Linked DNA regions of Homo sapiens. The protein of the gene in region 3 purifies or fractionates together with the protein of the main gene of each other region. This does not show direct contact. Each region holds a gene or a part of one and is shown on either strand. Other genes may lie near its edges. The genes, in order: PGD, KGD4, EIF4H, NDRG1 and LIN54.

Region 1 (2,496 bases), on a different chromosome or scaffold from region 3:
AAGCCAGGAGTGGTGGCGGGCACCTGTAGTCCCAGCTACTCTGGAGGCTGAGGTGGGAGAATGGTGTGAACCCGGGAGGTGGAGCTTGCAATGAGCCAAGACCACGCCACTGCACTCCAGCCTGGGTGACAGAGCGAGACTCTGTCTCAAAAAAAAGAAAAATAAATTAAAAGTTGGTGATTTAATGAAAATTGTCTCCTTCACTGACATTAGCCGAGAGGTCAGAGGTCACACTGTAGACACCAGCTGTCGAGGCACAGGCGCTGCTCGCTCCTCTTAGGCAACTCTTAGGACTTTAACACTCCAGGGAAATCATCATGAAGTCAAACCGCTGCAGGGAACAGTCACACTGGCCCCAGGCCACACAACAATATCACTGGCAGGTTTTATCTTCTCTGAGTAAGTAAGATAAAGTGAAAAGCCTAGTTTAAGGAGCCGGCTTAGCTTGTTCAAAATCCCTGGGCCTGGCTTAGAGCAAGTAGAGACAGGTGTGGGAAAGGAAATAAATCAGACCAAGCTGAGCCCATCATTAAAGTTTAATTCTCTAGAAAGTTTAGTATGAAGTATTTGACATACAAAAAGCCATAAAGAATGTCACGCACAGCTTGCCAGGAGCAAAAAAAAAAAAAAAAAAAAAAAAGACGAAAGAAAAAGCACGTTACAGTGAACGTCCATGTACCCATTGCCCAATTGGAGAAAGAAAACATGCCCAGTGTATTAAAGCCCCTGGTGTGTCCTCCCTGCCTGCCTCCTCTGAGTGAAGCATAATCCTAAATGTGGTTTCTTGTGTTATTCTAGTCTTTTTTTTTAAAGAAAAATCTTTCTGCCAATGGGGATAATGGCTCCATGTGGCCGAGGTGAGACTAAGAATCTGGAGAAAGAGCATCAGTCTGATGTAGCTTTTATTGAGTAAAGGAAAAAGGGAATTCAGCCGCATGATACAGAGGTTCCAGTTGATCAGAGTGCGCAAACACCCTTCCTGTCTGCGTGATGGGAACCGCACCAGCACACGGGGCACGCGGAAGCCACTGCCGCAAGGAGATGGTTCCCACTCTCACGCACATGAGCAGCTCCTGGTCAGTCCCAAGAGGCAAGGGCAGAGGGCATGGTGGCTCTCACAGAGCTACTTTACAAATAAACTGTGTGTCTTCCTCAGGAGTCTCTTACAACACTTTTAAAAAACTGAACAGAAAATAGGGCAAAGGGCCAGGTGGCAGTGCCATGAGGCACATGGAATGTCCTGGTCTGTGGAATCGTGGAGGGTGACAGGAGCAGCATGATCAGGCATTGTATGACGAGGATGACACGGTGCCACCATGGCCTGTCCAGTTGGTGTGGATAAACTGCCCTGGTTTGGCCAAGAGTTCATAGGTGTGAGCCCCGAAGTAATCCCGCTGAGCCTAGGAAACGAGAGAGTAGGTTGGTCAGGACAGTCCATGGCGCACGCCCCCGAGGGGCCAGCCAGGTTAATCCCTGCTCCACAGGCTTACCTGGATGAGGCTGGCTGGAAGCATCTCATGTCTGTACCCGTCATAGAAGGAGAGGGCAGTGGTAAAACAGGGCATGGGAATGCCAGCCTGGACCCCAGTGCTGACTGCCCGCCGCCAGGAGTCCTGAGCACAAAACGCACGGCCAGAGATTAGTGATCTGCCCCTGGTGACGCGGATAGATTTTCATTCATATCAATGTGGGTAAATGAAAAACTGATGGTTAGGCCAGGCGCGGTGGCTCACGCCTGTCATCCCAGCACTTTGGAAGGCTGAGGTGGGCGGATCACGAGGTCAGGAGTTCAAGACCAGTCTAGCCAACATGGTGAAACCCCATCTCTACTAAAAATACAAAAAAAAAAAAAAAATTAGCCAGGTATGTTGGCACACCTGTAGTCCCAGCTACTTAGGAAGGCTGGGGCAGGAGAATCGCTTGAACCCAGGAGGCGGAGGTTGCAGTGAGCCAAGATCATGCCACTGTACTCCAGCCTGGGTGACAGAGCGAGACTCTGTCTCAAAAAAACAAAAAACCAAAAAAAAAAAACAAAAAACCAAACATCACAACTGATGGCCCCAGGGAGGTAGAGTAACCATGGCACCAGCCCTAGGCTACATACCTGGCAGTTTTCAACAGCTGACTTAAAGAAGTCGTCCAGTAGGAGGTTCTGAAGTTCCGGGTTTCGATCAAATGCATCCTTTATCTTTCCTAGGAATACACTGAAATAATCAAGGGGGGAAAAAAGCAATGAGTCTTTTTTTTTTTTTTTTTGAGACGGAGTCCCGCTTTGTCACCAGGCTGGAGTGGAGTGGCACGATCTCAGCTCACAGCAACCTCCACCTCCCAGGTTCAAGCGATTCTCCTGCCTCAGCCTCGCCAGTAGCTGGGATTACAGGCACGCACCACTACAACCGGCTAATTTTTGTATTTTTAGTAGAGACAGGGTTTCACCGTGTTAGCCAGGATGGTCTGGATCTCCTGACCTCGTGATCCGCCTGCCTCGGCCTCCCA
Region 2 (2,921 bases), on a different chromosome or scaffold from region 3:
GGTTCCCCTAAAGGGTTGAATTCCACTAACTAGAAATTTCATTATTTTACATTTTTGTAATTCATTTACTTAAGACTGCCCCTTAGCTGGGTGCAGTGGCACATGCCTATAATCCTGACTACTCACAGGCTGAGGTGGGATGGCTGGCAGGATGTTTGCTTGAGCCCAGGAGTTCAAGATCAGCCTGGGCAACAAAGCAAGACCCCATCTGTAAACAATAAATGTATAAAAATTTTAAAGCTACCTCCTTATTTGTTTTTAAAAACCTTTATGAAATTATATATAGCCAACTGAGTTACTCTACAATATTTACCTTTTGGAATTATAATACTTCAAGAGTTATTTGAAGAATGACTTCATTTCAAGAATGACTTGATTATTTGATAGTATTTTAAGACTCAGTATTTTGACATCTGAACAATTTCTCTAATAAGGTCTTTTTTTTTTTTAATTTCAGTATCAGAAGCTTTGAGATCAGCAGGGCTACCATCTCACTCTTCTGTAATTTCACAACATTCTAAAGGAAGTAAATCACCAGATTTGCTGATGTATCAGGGTCCACCAGACACTGCAGAAATAATAAAAACATTACCTCAGAAATACAGAAGGAAACTTGTGTCTCAAGAAGAAATGGAATTTATCCAAGTATGTCGTTGCTCTTTATCCCAAGACTACGCAAAACACCATAACATTTGGGCTTTGGGGATTTCATTTGCTGATTTACATGCTATTCCTATTGTCTTGTCAGAGTGTGGTCAGAGCTAAGACAGGATGGTCAGGTAGGCCAAGACTATGAGAAAGAAACCATAGTCAAATCCCTCTGTAAATATGCATGATATATCAATATCAATAGATATAATCACATAAAAAACAGCTCTTTGGGGTCCTGAATAATTTTTCAGAGTGTAAAGAGCTTCTGATACCAAGAAATTTAAGGACAGGTCAACCTTGAGTCCCTTCCAGGTCTGAAATTATAAGAATTGATAAGAGGGCTGGGCATGGTGGCTCATGCCTGTAATCCCAGCACTTTGGGAGGCCAAGGCAGGTGGGTCACCTGAGGTCAGGACTTGGAAACCAGCCTGGCCAATGTGGTGAAACCTCGTCTCTACTGAAAATACAAAAATTAGCTGGGTGTGGTGGTGGGTACCTGTAATCCCAGCTACTCGGGAGGCTGAGGCAGGAGAATCTCTTGAACCCGGGAGGCGGAGGTTGCAGTGAGCCAAGGTCACGCCACTGCACTCTAGCTTGGGCAAGAGTGAAACTCCGGAAACTCCATCTCAAAAAAAAAAAAAAAAAAAAAAAAAAGAATTGATATGAGTACCCAAAAGTTTTGACTAATTCAAAACTATTTTTTAAAAACCAAAGATTACTTACTGAAGATTGTATAAATTTGTAAAATTGCCATCAAAACATTTCCTGAGTCAATTTAACATCTAATCTTACTGCTTTATTTTTTCCTTTTCAGCGTGGAGGTCCTGAATAACCATGGTGGCTGCTGTTTGTCATCAGACAATAGAATTGTCTTTACAATAAAGGACTTCCAAAATGACAGATGAGAAACTGTATATTAAACACCTTTAATAAATATTATGAAAAAAATGAAATATAGAAAATTTAGATGGACACTTGTATTTCCTAATTTATGTATCTTGGTCAGCTTCTCCACAAGCTTACCTAATTGTTTATATACTTTATACTTATTAAAGTATACATTTTTAAATGTTAGCCTATTAATTTACTCTTGATTATCAAACATTACCAGTGTTGAACTATTAAAAGCACACAATGTGTAGTAAACTATCATAGGATTCCCATAATTTCACTTTACTTTCTGTTTAGGCATGGAAAAATTTATCAGTCAGAATTGCTGTTTTAGGGACATGATTTTCCTGAAATTGGGTGAGGATCAGTGAAATAATTACTCTATTACTTGTTCTTAATTCTCTGTTCTCTAATGTTTTTTCATTCACAAGTTTACTGGAGTATAACTGGCTTAGTAAGTATATCCTACTCTGAATGATAAAAATATAGTCAAGCTAAAATAGGTGACTATACTATTAAGATAGAGATCATACAAAAGATTCCAAAGAAAGTCAAAAAGTGTAAAATGGAAAATAAGAGATCAAAATGAATATAGCATAGGAATAAAGATTTCACTAGAAATTGCAATTTATTATGTTTTGGAGGTTGTAAGGAAGTCTTGTTTTTTGGTTTATTTTACTGTTTTGTGATCTTGTATGCAAATCCTGATAACCATTAACCTTCTCAAACTTAATGTCTGAGAGCCTCATAAAATCAACATATTTACTTATTAAGCAGTTTATGAAACTTTAATGGGGCCCCTCCTGTGCCAAGGGTACGTATATTGTGAAGTAAAGCCTCACAAAGCTAAATAAATTCTCTTCCATACCTTTAATGATTTCTAGAATATGCTTTAAAGAAGTCCTCCCTGAGAGTTAAGGGTAGGTCATGAGCAAGAAATAGAATTGGCTTTGAGTATGCTTCTGTATTTACTCAGTTGACTGTGGGTTAATTTTTACTTATTTCTACTACTCCACAGAGTTGATCTACTTCTCTTATAAATTTTTTGCTGTGGCCTAGTGTAAATGTTGTTCAGCACAAATATGAGAGTTTGATGCTGGCAATAAGCTGTTCAGGTGACTCATTGAAAAACATGATTCAGGCCAGGTGCAGTGGCTCATGCTTTGTTAATACCAGCACTTTGGGGAGCCAAGGCAGGTTGATCACCTGAGGTCAGGAGTTCAAGACCAGCCTGGCCGGCAGGTGAAACCCCGCCTCTACTAAAAATACAAAAATTAGCCAGGCAATGTGACACACACCTATAATCTCAGCTACAGGGAAGCTGAGGCCAGAGAATCACTTGAACCCAGGAGGCAGAGGTTGCAGTGAGCCAACATTGT
Region 3 (3,522 bases):
TATTTTTATTTAGAACCCCTTCCCATCCTCCCCTACACTTTACAGTAATATACAATAAGAATCCCCCAAACTCACCTTTAAATTTATCTGTGTCTTTGTCTCTGACTAGCCGTACACTCCTTATGCTGAGATCCTTAAAGATAGCATCTATGTCGCCCTGAACCGTATTGAAAGGTAGATTTCCTACGTATGCTGTGTAGGGGGGCTCTGTGGGCAACTCCTTCTGGCTACGGGAACCATGGCCACCAGCACTGCCGCGGGACCTAGGAGGGGAGACAAACAGGATTCAAGTGTGCCCAGAGTGGAATAAGCAAAACAAGTAAAGCGGTCTTCCGCTGAGCTACGCCGCCAGCGCCCCAGGTGAGGCACTCTGCTCGATGTACCACAAGACTGTTACAGAGAATGGCTGGAGAAACAAAAAAAAAGGAAAAGAAAAATTTTTTGAGACAGACTGTCACTCTGTCACCCAGGCTGGAGTGCAGTGGCACAATCTTGGCTCACTGGAACCTCTGCTTCCCGGGTTCAAGAGATTCTCCTGTCTCAGCCTCCTAAGGATGCTGAGATTACAGGCATGTGCCACCACACCTGGCTAATTTGTGCATTTTTAGTAGAAACAGGGTTTCACCATGTTGGCCAGGCTGGTCTCCAACTTCTGACCTCAGGTGGTCTGCCTGCCTCACCCTCCCAAAGTGCTGGGATTACAGGTGTGAGCCACCATGCCCAGCCCAAACGTAACACACCTTCCTAAGACAACTGCTTCTCTCCTATTCACTCAGAATCTGTATCTGCAGTATTTACATCCTAAAACCTAAGCAAGTACCCTCCTTCACACACCGTGGTTCTAAGAAATACAGAAATGGACAGTCTAGAAGTAATGTTGTATTCAGAAGAAGGATTACTGAAGTTGTTTACGTTTAACACATTCATACATAATAGAATTATTTCTCCTACCGCTTGAACCTGGGAAGCGGAGGCTGCAGTGAGCCAAGATCGCACCACTGCACTTCAGCTCACGCGACAGAGACTCCGTCTCAAAAAAAAAAAAAAAAAAAAAAAAAAAAAAAAAAAAAAAAAAAAAAAAAAAATTTCTCCTTGTTGCCTGATTATGGGCATAAGAATGTCCTAATAAAAATTTTAGATGTCACACAGCAAGTACTGACGTACCTAACACTCTCGTGCAATACTTCACAGGGTCCTCAAATACATGCGTATGGCGTGCATTACCAATCCATTTCAACCTCGATGTCATCTCCTCAGCTGTATCAAGCGTCGTTTACTCTGCATAGGTATTGGTTTAAATCTAGCCTCTGTCACTTACTAGCATATGACCTTGAGAAGTTATTCAACTTCTCTAAGCTTTATTTTATTTGTAAAACTGAGTTAATCCTAATACAGCATTTTGGGAGGCCGAGGTGGGTGGATCACTTGAGGTCAGGAGTTCAAGATCAGCCTGACCAATGTGGTAAAACCCTGTCTCTACTAAAAATACAAAATTAGCTTGGTGTGGTGGTGCATGCCTGTAATCCCAGCTGCTGGGCAGGCTGAGGCAGGAGAATCGCTTGAACCCAGGAGGTGGAGGTTGTAGTGAGCCCATTGCACTCCAGCCTGGGCGACAGAGCGAGAGTCCATCTCAAAAAAAAAAAAAAGACATCAGAATATAGTATAAATAGATTATTATATTAAACGATATTTGCCATAAGAATGCCCCAGGAACGACTTAAAGTCGTTAGAAGTGAAGTGCCAAGATGGCCAACATTTGTTTTCAAGCAGGTCAGCATAAAGGGCATGTGTGCCGGTATACAGCAAGGATTCAGCAAACAAGGCAGAATAGTCACTTCTGCATCCACTAGCGTCATCCAACTGTACCATTATTTCAACCTTATTGTAGATTTGAAAATTTCCAAAATAAAACGTTTGGAAAACTCAGGAGGAAAAAAAAATTAAGGGGGTGATTTTTTTTTGAAACAGACATTTAACCCATTTCCTGTTTGCTCCAAGAATACCGTGCTGGCAGCCAACTGCAGTTTTTTTTTCTAAACGGGAAATGCGTTCAAATAAATGAGATCCTTCACAACAACCCAAGACCTGCCCAAAGTCACCCTCTTTGCAGGGGAAATATTAATATCCATCTTAGAGAGCAACCTGGTCTTTCATCTACATACTGCCAGAAACACAATGGAAATTCCACTTCTTCCTGAAGATAAATTCCAGGTGTCTTGCAGACAAATATTATTCATTAAAGCATTTTTCTAAAGTAGAAGGGTCAACCAAGCTGTGATGATTCTTTGATGGTTAAAAAAAAAAAAGCTTTTAAGTTTCATAATTCACAATTCCGGTACTTTCCAATAGGAAGTTCCACGTTCTGTTCTAAGACCACCAGAAAATAGGTTTACAAGTGAATTGCATCCTACCTGCCCACTTCTCCCATCTTTTCGGGCCTAGTAAATGTGACTTACTTTGCATTTCAATAACCTTTGCCAATAGTACTCTATCGCTGATATCTCCGAAATCATAAATCCTAAAATATTTTCAGTAAGATACTATTTAGGACGGGATAATAAATATATGAGTTACAGTATAAAGCCGGGCCCAGTGGCTCATGCCTGTAATCCCAACAGTTTGGGAGGCTGAGGCGGGAGGATCACTTAAAGCCAGGAGTTCAAGACCAGCCTGGGCAACACAGTAAGACCCCATCTCTATAAAAAATACAAAAAATTAGCCGGGAGTGATGGTCCACACTTGTAGTCCCAAGCTACCTGGGAGGCTGAGGTGGGAGGATCACCTGAGCCCAGGAGGTTGTTGCTGCAGTGAACTGTGATGGCACCACTGCACTCCAGCCTGGGTGACAGAAGGAGACTGTCTCCAACTGAAGAAACAACAACAACAACAAAAAGGCGGGGCACAGTGGCTCATACCTGTAATCCCAGCACTTCGGGAGGTCAAGGTGGGTGGATCACTTGAGGCCAGAAGTTCAAGACCAGCCTGGCCAACATGGTAAAACTCCGTCTCTACTAAAAATACAAAAACTAGCCAGGTGTGGTAGCACACACTTGTAATCCCAGCTACTTCAGAGGCTGAGGTGGAGCTTGCAGTGAGCTGAGACTGTGTCACTGCGCTTCAGCCTGGGCTACAGAGCGAGACTCCATCTCAAAAAAACAAAAACAAAAAAACACAAAAAACAAACAAAAAAGCACAAAAAACAACAACAAAACCAAACAAACAAAAAACAAGATACAGTATAAACATGTGGAAAACCATAAAAATGGAGGGTCAATGTTAAAAACAGTTTAAATTCATTACTCAACATTAAACATCTAGTGATGCGTAATGATGTTAAAAGACTGTCTTGTATGTAAGCAGCTCACAGTTGTGTGGGACGTATAAAACACATGTATATATGCAGGTATGTTTGTGTGTATGAATGTGTAACATATACATAAAAACTAAAAAGGAGGGTGAGGATGAAGAGAGATGATAAACTCTCGGGTGTTTGATGTAGTTGCTAAGTAAGGAAAATGGAGG
Region 4 (3,522 bases), on a different chromosome or scaffold from region 3:
CCCCACTCCACCCCAGGACTTGGCTCCCTACAATCTGCCCACTCCCAGCCCCCACGCCACCAGGCTGGCCCTCAAAGAACATCTGAGTTCACGGAAGCAGGATGGAAAACTCAGGATTTATTCAGAGGTTTCTACCCACTAGGTTCTATGTGCCCAACACAGAGCTCAGAACAAAAATAACACCAGCTATGGTGATGAGACTGGCTATGGGACTCATCTGGGGATCATGAGCAAACAGACCCAGTTCCTGCCCCCACGGAGCTCACAGTCCCGAGGGGACAGGCACTCCCTTGGGCTCACTCATCAGGCTGCATCTGGGCTGTGTCCACTGTCTGTCTGTCCCCCTGGAGGGCAGAGCAGATGCTGTCTGGACAGCATCCAGGACAGCGTCTGTGCCTCCTGGACAGAGATCCTCAGCTCAGCACTGCTGACATTTGGGCCCCACAAGCAGCCTCTGCCTTAGGGGCTGCCCTGAGCACGGGAGGAGGCTCAGCAGCATCCCTGGCCTCTGCCCACCACATGCCCACAGCATACACCCCACGCTGCGACCAGCAAAAGAATCTGCAAACGTTGCCAAATGTCCCCTGGTGCGACATCCACCCTCCTCTGGAATAGCTGATTTTAGTAATTCCTAGTAGGTAACAGTATCCAGAAAATGTCAGTTGGATGCATTCTTATTTAATCTAGTGCATGCGTGCACACACGCACACACACACACACACACTCTCAAATGCACTCACACATTCCCTCACACTGACACACTTGCAAACTTTCATTCTCACACTCAGACATTCTCACATTCACACACTTATACTCACACATACATACATTCTCACAAACACACTCATTCTCACATACTCACACTTTCTTACACACTGATACATTCTCACTTTCATGGACTCTCACATCCACAGTCATTTATACTCACACGCACTCACACGCACACGTGCACTCCCCACCACCTTCATTCACGGAGGAGGGGGCTGGGCCCAAGCGGCTGCCAGCTGTCCTGAGCTCACCCTGCTGGCTGCAGCACAGGGGCTGGAGTGGAGTCAGATCCAATGTTCACACTCTTCCTTCACTCCACTCTCCCCAAAACACTTTTTCTGGGATTCAAAGTCACCACCTGAGAATCATGGAAGGACCCAGTTCTGGCAGAAGCTGCTGTCTTCTGGTGTCTGTGATCTCCTTCTGCCAGCAGGAAATGGCAGGTGATACGTGACCTGGTTTGGCGGCTCGAGCTGGTGCTTCCACTCCTGCTCCCTCCTCCCGGGCACCTGAGGCCCTCACGGCTTAGCAAGTGTGGCAGGTGGAGCCTGTCCCTGGGCTTGAGGTCCTTGCTGGACTCCAGCTCCTGCCCTCCCTCTGCCTCATGCAAAGTCCTAATCACAGAATGTTGGGACCCACTAGAAAGCATCAAAGAGGTCCTCCAGCAGGTGGGGTGGCAAGGCAGGGCCACACACAGCATGGCGGGGGAACCAGGGCTGACTCCTAGCCCACCAGCCCCACCTTTGGAGTGGCTTGGGACTGACAAACCGTGTCTCCATCTCCAAGGCCATCTTTGCTCCCCAAGAAGCACAGAAGAAACCCCTCCAGCAGGTCTCCTTCAGCTAAAACCCAGCTTAGCACCAAAAACAGGGCTCCAGGTCACAGCACCAGCTGCCAGCCTGTATCTTCACTTCTTTTCCCATCCACCTGCCTGGGAGGAATTCCGAGAAGACCAATGCCAGAGAAGCGAAAGGTAGCCAGGAGCTGGGGGAAGGCTTGCAGGCCATGGTGTCACCATTTATTAGCTCTGTGATCCTGCATAATTTATCGAATCTCTTTTTAAAAATGTATTATTCATCTTGTTTTTTAGAGAGACAGGGTCTTGCTATGTTGCCCAGACTGGTCTCAAACTCCTGGGTTCAAGTGATCCTCCTACTCCGGCCTCCTGAGTAGCTGAGATTACAGGCATATGCCACCATGCCTGGCTATCTAACCTCTTTGCCTCAGTTTGCTTGTCTGTCAATGGGCATGCTAACTCCTGCTCCCAATGATCAGCAGTGGGGCTTAAATTCAAGAATGGCATGGAGAATTAAGCAAACAGTTGCTTAATTCATCAACATACTTTCCTTTCAGGGTTGCCTTGGAGATGCCAGGACATCTGTGAGGATGTGGCCTGGGTTTCAGTCCTAGAGTCCCAGCGAGGAGAGGGACACATGGAAAATGCTCAGCAAATGCCACCAAGGTTTCTGATTATCAGGCCCAGTGCGTCACCACTGGGGCCCTTCTCTCCACCAGCACTGTCTGTCAATGAGTAATGAGGGCCCAAGAGGGGCTACACAAATACCCTTCCAGTCCAGCAGACCCAGGAGAGTCAGAGGAGAGCTGGATCACAGGTGCCAGGCAAAGCCAAGGCCAGGATCTGCCCGAGGAAGAAAAGAACGTGACCCGTGACCCTGGGACCTGGGAGGGCAGTGGGCAGAGGCATCTTCAGTAATCCGACACCACTTGAGAACTGTTCAACAGCCCCTGGGGGACTGAGGGGGACACACAGAGCCTGTGATTCCCAAAAACCTCAGTGGGGCAGCAGGAACGCTGGCCTAGGAATCAGGGCATGGGGACCCTGCCACTTTCCTATTCCATGACTCTGAGCAAGTCACTTCCTCTCTGGGCCTTGGTTTCTCCATCTGTAAAGTAGGCACAGTGTACGTCTATGGAGATCACGCTGTCCACAACAAACTTACAGGCAAATGGAAACCCAGGCAGGAAGGTGCTTCACCAAGACAAAAGGGCCACAGGGTCTTACCAAGGCCCTGCCAGGCTCAGCTCTGGCCAGATTAGCCCCGCACCTTGGACCAAGGCCCCCACTTCTGCCAGCCTCAGACTCCTGTCTGTTAAGACTAGTGCCTTGCTCCAGCTCTGCCACCCACCTGCACACCCTCTTGAGCAAACTCTCCTGGGCCCCGCCACAACTCCCACAGGGTGAGGCTGAAGGGGTATCCAGCAGAGAAACATCCATGATCTGTTCTAGAAGTTCCAGGTTCCGCCCACCAGGAAGAGCAGCCACAGGAAGGCAACAATGTAACCCTACACAGACACACCACAAAAACAGCACCAGGAACAGTATCTGTGGCACTAACTGGACTCTAAACCCGGTACTTCCTTTAAGCCTCACAGAAACCCTAGGAGGGAGGTGCCAGCATGTCACCATTTAACAGACGGGGAAACTGAGGCATCAAGAGGTTAAGATGTGTGCCCCAAGTCAGCAAGCATCAAGCTGGCTGCTTTAAGGTTAAAGCAACCTTAAAGGGAATGTTGACAATGATCTCACATTGCCCTAAATATATCCACAGTCCTCACCACCACCCGTGGCCCAGATACAACGTTGTAAGGTGGGCTGCACGTGACCATGAGGCTTTCAGCGTGTGGAGGTCAGCTGGGACAGTCACATGCCTCTCCTCCACCCTGCAGTCACCACTGAGCCATCATGAGCAGGCTTGAGCTTTTGGCAAAACCAGCATCTTGAACTTTTCTCCC
Region 5 (3,522 bases), on a different chromosome or scaffold from region 3:
CCCAGGTTCAAGCGATTTTCCTGCCTCAGCCTCCCAGGTAGCTGGGACTACAGGTGCCCACCACCACTCCCAGCTAATTTTTTTGGTATTTTTAGTAGAGACGGGGTGTCACTGTATTGGCCAGGCTGGTCTCAAACTCCTGACCTCGCAATCTGTCCACCTCAGCCTCTGAAAATGCTGGGATTACAGGCATAAGCCACCGCACCCGGCCTGTTTTCTACATACTCTATATCCTATGATGACTCAATTTCTACACCACTCTTCTGTGTTTGAATGCTGCAAGTCTTTCTTTCTTAAATCTCAGGTTAAGTGGTTTGGCTTTTATTTGGCATAAATATGTCATTTATTTTATAAGTCCATTTTGTGCCTTTTTCTTTAGCTCATCTGAATTCTTGTACATTGATTTTGGATGTGATGTGGTTATTCAGATGATCCAGAATGTACTTTATAAAAATACTATTGAAATGAAAATACAAACCTTTCTTTTTTAAAAAAAAATTAGGTCAGGTGCAGTAGCTCATGCCTGTAATTCCAGCACTCTGTGAGGCCGAGGTGGGTGGATGGCTTGAGCTCAGGTGTTTGAGACTAGCCTGGGCAACATGGCGAGACCCCGTCTCTAGAAAAACTAGACAAATTAGCTAGTCATGGTGGTGCACACCTGTAGTCCCAGCTACTTCAGAGGCTGAGGTGGGAGGATCACTTGAGCCCCCAGGTGGAGGTTGCTGTGAGCCAAGATTGCGCCACTGCATTCCAGCCTGGGCAACAGAGTGAGACTCTGTCTCAGAAAAAATTTATTGTTTTAATTTGTTTTTTTCATGGAACACTTCACAAATTTGCATGTCGTCCTTGTGCAGGGGCCATACCAGTCTTCTCTGGGAAATACAAACCTTTCAAAACTTCATCAGAACTCATGGCTTATAGTCTACTGCTCCCAGTTTAGTTTGAGAAATATAGTTCTATAACTGGTTTTTTAGTTGTTGATGTTTTATTTTAGAAATAAAAGCTAAAATCTGGCCGGGCGAGGTGGCTTACACCTGTAATCCCAGCACTTTGGGAGACCGAGCTGGGCGGATCAATTGAGGTCAGGAGTTCAAGGCCAGCCTGGCCAACATGGTGAAACCCTGTGTCTACTAAAAATACAAAAAATAAGCCAAGCGTGGTGGCACACGTCTGTAATCCCAGCTACTCAGGAGGCTGAGGCGGGAGAATCACTTGAACTTGGGAGGCGGAGGTTGCAGTGAGTGGAGATCACGCCACTGCACTCCAACCTGGGTGACAGAGCAAGACTCCATCTCACACTCACAAAAAAAAGCTTAAATCTAAGTGGTATAGTTAACCAGTTAATGCTGGTAGTAAGCTCTAGGTACAAAAAATACAGTTGACCCTTGAACAATGTGGGGATTAGGGACACCAACCCCAAGCAGTCATATCCACATATGCATATAATGTTTGAATCCCCAAAAACTTAACTACTAATAGCCTATTGTTGACCAGAAGCCTTACGGATAACATACATAGTTGATTAACACATATTTTGTATATTTATTACATATCATATTCTTACAATAAAGTATGCTAGAGAAAAAATGTTATTACAAAAACCGTAAGGAGGAGAAAATATAGTTACTGTTCATGAACTGAAGTGGATCATCATAAAGGTCCTCATCCTTGTCTTCATGTTGAGGAGGCTGAGGAAGAGCAGCGGTAGGTCTTGCTGTCTGGAGTGGCAGAGGCAGAAGAGGTGGAGGAGGTAGATGAGGAGACAGGAGAGGTGGGCACACTTGATGTAACTTTATGGAAATACATTGTAATTTCTGTCTAACTTTTTTTCCCCTGCCTCCCTCCCTCCTTCCCTCCTCCCTCCTTCCTCCTTCCCTCCCCTCCTCCCTCCCTCCCTCCTTTCTATCCCTCCTTCCTTCCCTCCTTCCTTCCTTCCTCCCTCACCCTTGCTTTTTTTTTAGAGGTGAGGTCTCGCTATGTTGCTGGTCTTGAACTCCACCTGGGCTTAGGCGATCCTCATGCCTCAGTCTCCCAAGTAGCTGGGATTAAAGGCATGCACCACTATGCTTGATTTCTCTAAAAATATTTCTCTGTGGTAGCAAGCTTTTTTTCACTGTTTGCTTTAGCTTCATTGTGTGTATCGTAGAAGGGTCCATGTCATAAAAAATTTCAAAAGCAGTCTTGAATAATGCCGATTGTCTACTGTCAGTTCGTTTTCTGTGCTTCTTCTACATCTTCTTTCTCATTGTCTGGCACTAGTTCGGAAGCACTCATCTCCATCAAGTTGTCCCCTGTTAATTCCTCTGCTATGGTATCTGTTAGCTCTTGAATTTCTCCAAGATCCCTCCCTTCCTTCCTTCCTTCCTTCCTTCCTTCCTTCCTTCCTTCCTTCCTTCCCTCCCTCCCTCCCTCCCTCCCTCCCTCCCTCCCTCCTTCCTTCCTTCCTTCCTTCCTTCCTTCCTATCCTTTTTTTTTTTTTGAGACAGAGTCTTGCTCTGTCGCCCAGGCTGGAGTGCAGTGGTGCGATCTTCGCTCACTGCAAGCTCTGCCTCCCGGGTTCATGCCATTCTCCTGCCTCAGCCTCCCTGGTAGCTGGGACAACAGGCGCCCGCCACCACGCCCAGCTAATTTTTTTTTGTATTTTTAGTAGAGACGGGGTTTCACCATGTTTGCCAGGATGCTCTTGATCTCCTGACCTCGTGATCTGCCTGCCTCGGCCTCCCAAGGTGCTGGGATTACAGGCGTGAGCCACTGCGCCCGGCTTCTTTTTCTTTTCTTTTTGACAGGATTTCACTCCTGCTCAGGCTGGAGTGCGGTGGTGTGATCATAGCTCACCGCATCCTTGACCTCCTGGGCTCAAGTGATCCTTCCACCTGAGCCTCCTGAGTAGCTGGGACTACAGGTGCACACCACCACACCTGGCTAACTTTTAAATTTTTTGTAGAGATGGGATCTCACTAGGTTGCCCAGGTTACTCAAACTGCGGGGCTCAAGTGATCCCCTCACCTTGGCCTCCCAAAGTGTTGGGATTACAGTCATGAGCCAGTGTGCCTTACCCAAGATGCATATCTTGAAACCCTTCACCTCCCACCATTTTTGTCATATCCACAATTTATTTCATGATTTTCTTCATTGGTTATGTCATAAATCCTATGAAATCATGCACAATGTCTAGACACAGTTTTCTCTGTAAGAATTTATTGCTTTTGGGCTGGGCTTGGTGGCTCATGCCTATAATCCCAGCACTTTGGGAGGCCAAGGTGGGCAGATCACCTGAGGTTAGGAGTTTGAGACCAGCCTGGCCAACATGGCAGAACCCCATCTCTCCTAAAAATACAAAAATTAGCTGGGCGTGGTGGCGCGTGCCTTTGATCCCAGCTATTTGGGAGGCTGAGGCAGGAGAATTGCTTGAACCTGGGAGGCAGAGGTTGCAGTGAGCTGAGATCAAGATTGCGCCACTGCACTTCACCCTGGGACTCTATCTCCAAAAAAAAAAAAAGAATTTATTGCTTTGGGCTTGAT

What was found.
Region 1: the proteins of EIF4H (region 3) and PGD fractionate together in Homo sapiens (co-fractionation; one large-scale study listed by BioGRID). This does not show direct contact.
Region 2: the proteins of EIF4H (region 3) and KGD4 fractionate together in Homo sapiens (co-fractionation; one large-scale study listed by BioGRID). This does not show direct contact.
Region 4: the proteins of EIF4H (region 3) and NDRG1 fractionate together in Homo sapiens (co-fractionation; one large-scale study listed by BioGRID). This does not show direct contact.
Region 5: the proteins of EIF4H (region 3) and LIN54 purify together in Homo sapiens (co-immunoprecipitation; one large-scale study listed by IntAct). This does not show direct contact.

The regions. Positions count from the first base shown.
Region 1 is NC_000001.11:10,418,534-10,421,029, reverse strand, and holds the end of PGD (6-phosphogluconate dehydrogenase, decarboxylating), read right to left. Parts: intron 2,205-2,496; coding exon 2,105-2,204; intron 1,614-2,104; coding exon 1,491-1,613; intron 1,401-1,490; coding exon 1,281-1,400; 3' UTR 519-1,280; downstream 1-518. UniProt on the Homo sapiens protein: Catalyzes the oxidative decarboxylation of 6-phosphogluconate to ribulose 5-phosphate and CO(2), with concomitant reduction of NADP to NADPH.
Region 2 is NC_000005.10:69,227,743-69,230,663, forward strand, and holds the end of KGD4 (alpha-ketoglutarate dehydrogenase component 4), read left to right. Parts: intron 1-457; coding exon 458-645; intron 646-1,465; coding exon 1,466-1,483; 3' UTR 1,484-2,416; downstream 2,417-2,921. UniProt on the Homo sapiens protein: Molecular adapter that is necessary to form a stable 2-oxoglutarate dehydrogenase enzyme complex (OGDHC). Enables the specific recruitment of E3 subunit to E2 subunit in the 2-oxoglutarate dehydrogenase complex (OGDHC).
Region 3 is NC_000007.14:74,184,352-74,187,873, reverse strand, and holds part of EIF4H (eukaryotic translation initiation factor 4H), read right to left. Parts: intron 264-3,522; coding exon 76-263; intron 1-75. UniProt on the Homo sapiens protein: Stimulates the RNA helicase activity of EIF4A in the translation initiation complex. Binds weakly mRNA.
Region 4 is NC_000008.11:133,287,241-133,290,762, forward strand, and holds part of NDRG1 (protein NDRG1), read right to left. Parts: intron 1-3,522. UniProt on the Homo sapiens protein: Stress-responsive protein involved in hormone responses, cell growth, and differentiation. Acts as a tumor suppressor in many cell types. Necessary but not sufficient for p53/TP53-mediated caspase activation and apoptosis.
Region 5 is NC_000004.12:83,000,805-83,004,326, reverse strand, and holds part of LIN54 (protein lin-54 homolog), read left to right. Parts: intron 1-3,522. UniProt on the Homo sapiens protein: Component of the DREAM complex, a multiprotein complex that can both act as a transcription activator or repressor depending on the context. In G0 phase, the complex binds to more than 800 promoters and is required for repression of E2F target genes.